2 separate regions of the Homo sapiens genome follow, and region 1 is linked to region 2. The links come from fine-mapping of genetic effects on gene expression. A gene starts in region 2. The other region holds a variant in brackets. All regions are shown on one strand. Distances are between the middles of the regions. Region 1 has its middle 17 kb from the start of MGP. Region 2 holds the start of ARHGDIB (Rho GDP dissociation inhibitor beta).

Evidence for each region. PIP is the estimated chance that this variant, and not a neighbour inherited with it, causes the effect. A credible set is the group of variants that fine-mapping cannot tell apart.
Region 1: its variant is the best candidate, but not a certain one, in a credible set for the expression of ARHGDIB in nasal epithelium (TOPMed, PIP 0.70).

Annotation. Positions count from the first base shown.
Region 1 is chr12:14,867,562-14,870,479 of GRCh38, reverse strand. No RefSeq gene overlaps it. Among named protein-coding and RNA genes, the nearest start is that of MGP, 17 kb to the left of the region's middle. The variant G/A (reference allele first, on the strand shown) is at 1,383.
Region 2 is chr12:14,960,417-14,963,334 of GRCh38, reverse strand. It overlaps ARHGDIB (Rho GDP dissociation inhibitor beta), which reads left to right and starts at 1,734. Exons shown (of 6, transcript NM_001175.7): 1 at 1,734-1,798. RefSeq lists an enhancer at 1,912-2,031.

The DNA of each region.
Region 1 (2,918 bases), 93 kb after region 2:
TAACATATATTTGAGGTAGGCATATTTAGGGCTTGGAATTTCTTTTTTGGACAACTGATTTAATTCTTTAGGTCTTATCGAAACCATAGCTGTGAATTAAATGTGGTCAGAAGCAGATAGGTAACTAAGAGTTTGACAATAAAGGAAAGAAAGGAGTTTCTATTATTTTCTAAGCGTCTCTGTGACTCATAATCTTAAGTGTAATTAAACTAATACAAGCATGTATTACACATTTTATTTTGCTATGGTTTGTGTGATGTACCGGAAATGAAGCTGATGGGGAGAGGGCAGAGATGGCCAATTAGAAGCAGCTGTGGTACCTGGCTCTCACAAAGAGGAAAGAAAGGAGCAAGTGAATACCACACCTCCAACTGAAATATCCAGGTACTCGCAGTGAGGCTGATCAGGAAAACAGCTTGACCCATGGAGAACATAGAAAAGCAGGGTGGGGCGATAGCCCACCTGAGAGCAACACAGAGCCAAGGGAACCCCCATCCCCAGCCACAGGAAGCAGTGAGTGACTGTGTGACCCCAAGAAACCAGACTTCTCCCACAGATCTTTGCAACTGTCAAATCAAGAGATTCCCTTGTGAGCCCACACCACAGGGCCTTGGGTCCGACACACAGAGCTGTGTAGAGTCTCAGCACAGCAGCTGCTCAGGCACACACAGAGACCCAGGAGCTTTACCTACTCTGGCTTTGGGATCCTCAGCAAGGCAGGAGACCTGTATATACCCCTAGGAAGGGAGCTGAATCCAGGGGGCCAGTGTCAGTCTGTGGGCCTCACTTCCACGGTACCTCACAAGATAAGATCTACTGGCTTGGATTCCAGCCAGCTACTAGCAACAGGGTGGAGCCTGCCTGAGATGGGTCAGAGACCCGGAGGACAGAGGCAGGCCACCATCTCTGCTGTTTGGTCAACTCAGCCATTCCAGCCTGTGAGCTTTGGAAAATCCAAATGGTCTGGACAAGGAAAGATTCCCCCCAACACAGCAGAGCTGCTTTGCCAGAATGTGCCCAGATTGCCTCTTTAAGCAGTATCCCAAAACATTCCTCCTCACTGGGCAGGACCTCCCATCTGGAACCTTCGGCCACTCCTGCCCATTTTCTATGGACAGAGTTCTGATCTCTCCCTGAGGGAGAGGTGTGGGCCACCGCCTTGGTTGTTTGGACAACTAAGCCACTCCAGCCTGCAGGGTGTGGAGAGTGCAAGTTGACCAGCACAGAGGCAGCTCCCCAGCATGGCAGAGCTCTTTTGTCAAGGTGTAGTCAGACTGTTTCTTCAAACAGGAACCCAATCCACTCCTCCTTGCAGGGCAGGTCCTCCCAGTCAGGGCCTCTGGCTACCCTGCTCTAAGGACAGAGGTCTGATTTCTCCCTGG[G/A]ATGGGTGCCCAGGGGGAGGAGCAGGTCACCATCTTTGCTGTTTGGGTGACTCAGCCATTCCAGCCTGTGGGCTTTGGTGAGTCCAAGCTGACATGGCCGGGGATGGGTCCCCAGGACTCCATGACTGTCTTGTTAAGGTGTGGCCAGACTGCTTCTATAAAAGGGGGCAGGATCCATTCCTCCTTGCTGGGCAGGTCCTCCCAGCTGGGGCCCCAGGCCACCCCTGCCCATGTTCTATGACCAACAGAGTTCTAATTTCTCCCTGGAATGGGGGAGCCCACGAGATGGGGCAGGCCACCACCTTTGCTGTTTGGGCATCTCAGCTAGTCCACCCTGCAGACCTTGGATTGGGGGCTGAAGGGATCCTCAACATAGCACAGCTGCTCTACCAAAAAGCAGCCAGACTGATACTTTAAGCAGGTCCCTGATCTCGTTCCTAGTGACCCCAACCAGGGTCTCCAGCCACCTTGTACAGGCATGTTTAGGCCAGCAACAGGTCAGTAGCCCTCAGGGCAGAGCTCCCAGAGAGAGGGGCAGGCTGCCATCTTTGCTGTTTTGCAGCATTCACTGATGATACCTTCAGGTACTAGAAAAACCGAGGTGACTAGGGTCTGGATTGGACCCCCAGCCAAACACAGCAGCCCTACAGAAGAATGGCCAGGCTGTTAAAAGAAAAACAAACAAAGAAAAAACAACAATAACAACAACAAAAGAAAACACAAAAGAACCCATCCAAAGGTGAGCAACCTTAAAGATCAAAAGTAGATAAGCCCACAAAGATGAGAAAGTATCAATGCAAAAACAATGAAAACTCAAAAAACCAGAGTGCCCCCTTTCCTCCAAATGACCACAACACCTCTCCAGCAAGGGTTCAGAACTGGGCTGAGGCTGAGATGGCTGAAATGACAAAAGTAGTCTTCAGAATGTGGATGAAAACAAGCAAACAAACTTCGCTGAACTAAAGGAGCATGTTGTAACCCAATGCAAAGAAGCTAAGAAACATGATAAAACAATGCAGGAGTAGACAGCCAAAATAACCAGTATAGAGAGAAACATAATCGACCTTATAAAGCCAAAAAACACACTACAAGAACTTCACAATGCAATTCAAAGTATTAATAGCAGAATAGACCAAGCAGAGGAAAGAATCTCAGAGCTTGAAGACTGTCTTTCTGAAATTACAGACAGACAAGAATAGTGAAAAAGGAATGAACGAAACCTCCAATATGGGATTACGTAAAGAGACTAAATCTATGACAGATTTGGGTACCAAAAAGAGATGCAGAGGCTGGAATCAATTTGGAAAACATACTTCAGGGTATCATCCCAGAGAACTTCTGCAATCTAGCTACACAGGCCAACATTCAAATTCAGGAAATGCAGATAACCCTGGTAAGATACTTTACAAGATAATCCCCAAGACACATAATCATCAGATTCTCCAAGGTCAAAATGAAAGAAAAAAATGTTAAGGGCAGCCAGACAGAAAGGCTTGGTCACCTAACGAAAGGAAGCCCATCAGACTAACAGCAGAC
Region 2 (2,918 bases):
CTAAAATTATGAATGCTCTCTCATCCCCCAATAAATACATTAATCTATAATACAAATCTGTAAAATATGTATTGATTTTACAGATTTTTCTGGGAAGGGGTGCTCCCATACCCTCCGATATACACTGGGCTCTGGAGGGAAAAAAAAAGCCAGGTTTGCCTAGTGAGGTGTTCCCTAATAACATGAGAAATGAGTGGTGGAATAGAGACCATGCATTTACCATTTTTCATTTTTAAATATTTCTTGTTACAATTAATGTATTCTGCCTGTGTTATTTTAATTGTCTCCTAGGTACAACATAAGTTCCACAGGGCAGCAGAGATGTCGCCTGCGGTCTATTGCTGCACAAGGGAACTAGAACAGTACTTGAAAGAAAAGAGGTGCTCGATAAATGTTATGGAATGAATAAATGTATCCCCTCTTGAGGGTGCAGAGCTATAGAATGTGTAAGTTACTGCCTTCTGTGTAAATTAGGGTTTGCTTTGTTTTTACAATAAAGTTATGTACATTGTTTCAAGGGCTGTATTCTGTCTATGCTATTTTAAAATTTATAGAATAAAGTGGTATTAGGCTTTTAGTATTTTTGCTCATTTTAATTATATACTATTTTCCTTTTCATATTTTTCTAGGCTAATCTCTTCTCACGTGAAATGACTCCCTTGATTATTCCGATTTCATTGACTCTAAGTAGAAGGCAAACCCTGTGGTATCAATTTACAAAGGGAAATGAAGAAGATGCAGTACATTTAGGTGAAAACAAAATAAACGTCAGTTTCTCCAAATTTGTGTGCTTAGTCAGATCTAAATATATTGATGTAGTGTAAATACTGAATATTGAAATATTAACCTAAATAAGCATTTATTATTGGTAACAGCTACGGGAATATACAGCATGAATGTGACTTGGCTGCTTAAAAACTGTTCCTCAGATGGTTTAAACATGGCCTCCGAGACTTGTTCCCATTTAAATTACTTCATAAACCATTTCCTCAAATATGGTACAAAGTCTATTTTGGCACTTGTTAAGTTGTCACAAATTCTGAGTTGGAAGACTATGAATTAATGAAGTTTTACTTCCTTTTGTAATTTCTTTCCTAGGTTTCATCAAAGACAGTACTTTCGCTTGCTTGTTTGTTTCATTTGAAGAAAAATCAGCCAAAACTATTAAAAACAATATTTGACTGTTTGTAGTGCAATACAAAGCTACGTCTTGAAATTATAACCAACAAAACTCCAAAAATCTGTTTAAGGACACATTTTTAAATTTAGGACCGTAGTATATGCAGTTAACAATCATCATTTCTTAGCACTCTACATTCACTGCCAGCAAACTTTCAACGTATCTGGTTGATAATGAAGCTGGCGGGGACCCAGTGGGAACAGAAGTGAGTGGTACAAAGTAAAGCCGATGTGAATTTATTGCTACTGGTTTCAGGCTCCTTACCTCCATAGGCTTATGCACTGCAATGACCTGATTATCAGAAATACCCTCACAATTATTCATAATACCCATAGCTATAGGCTCCACACTCTTGCGTGTACATTCATGCATCTCCACGTCACACGGGCTGTCATGCTCGCACATGTGCCATTAATTGACAAGAATGCTGCTCAAGTTGGCTGATCAAGAGATAGGCAGTGCAAAGGAACAGGATTTGAGACAGCCCAGGGTTTCCTCTTCAAGTAGGTCTAAAACATTTTTTTTTCTCATTGACTTCCTTCCTGTTCTAACTGCCAGTACTCAGAAGTCAGAGTTGAGAGACAGAGGCACCCCGGACAGAGACGTGAAGCACTGAATGTAAGTTCAAATACCTCGGGCTGGGGAGGCTTCAGGTGGGCACAGAGCAAAGTCGGAAACCTCTAGACGGGGCTACCGCCCTCGACAGTTTATTATTTTTTTAGAGGGGCAGTTCTTCTTTAAAACAAACTTTATGATAAGAAATTGCTAAGGAGGCTGCAGAGAAGGGGAAGTTAGAGGAGGGAAGGGTAGCAGTGACTCAGGGGAGGAGGCTTAAAAAAGGAGGGTACAGGGTGCGCTGCAGCCCAGGAAGTGCAATCCTGAATATTCTCAGAAGGGCTCTGAGAACACGCACCGGGAGTGCCTGGAGGGGTTTCCTGCAAAGTAGGAGCAGGCACCTGGCCAGGCTTGGAAGAAAAAGACTGTAGATCCAAAATGATACGGTCTGTGCTGGTGGATGGTGGGTTGTGCTGGGGTGGAGATATGTGGTTTCCTGTTTTTAAGCAGACAATGTAAAAAGACTGGTTGAAAGAGAAAAAAAAATGGTTCAAAGCTGTCAAATATTAAACTGTCTTCCACTAAATAATTTTCTGGTGATATAAGAGAAATGCATAATGAAATCCTCCCTTAGAGTGCAGGGGCTTTATCCCTCAAAGAGGAAGTATGGTATAGCACATTGTTATGTACTCATGAGTCATACAGTGATAGAATTTCTACCACTGACAAAGGCTGTGTATTAAATTCCTGCAGTCGGATGGGCAGATCTTTGCTGTTGTTGTCAAAAATAATAATAGGGCTGGGCGTGGTGGCTCACGCCTGCAATCCCAGCACTTTGGGAGGCCGAGGCGGGTAGATCACCTGAGGTCAGGAGTTCAAGACCGGCTTGACCAACATGGTGAAACCCCATCTCTACTGAAAATACAAAATTAGCTGGGTGTGGTGGTGCATCCCTGTAATCCCAGTTATTTGGGAGGCTGAGGCAGGAGAATCACTTGAACCCAGGAGGCAGGGGTTGCAGTGAGCCAAGATCACGCCATTGCACTCCAGCATGGGCAACAAGAGCGAAACTCTGGCTCAAAAAATAAAAATATTAATAATGATAATAGCCCTTTAGGTATGAGATAACTAACAGCAAACATGGAAAACACCAAATAACGTATTAAGAGACAGGTTTGAGAAA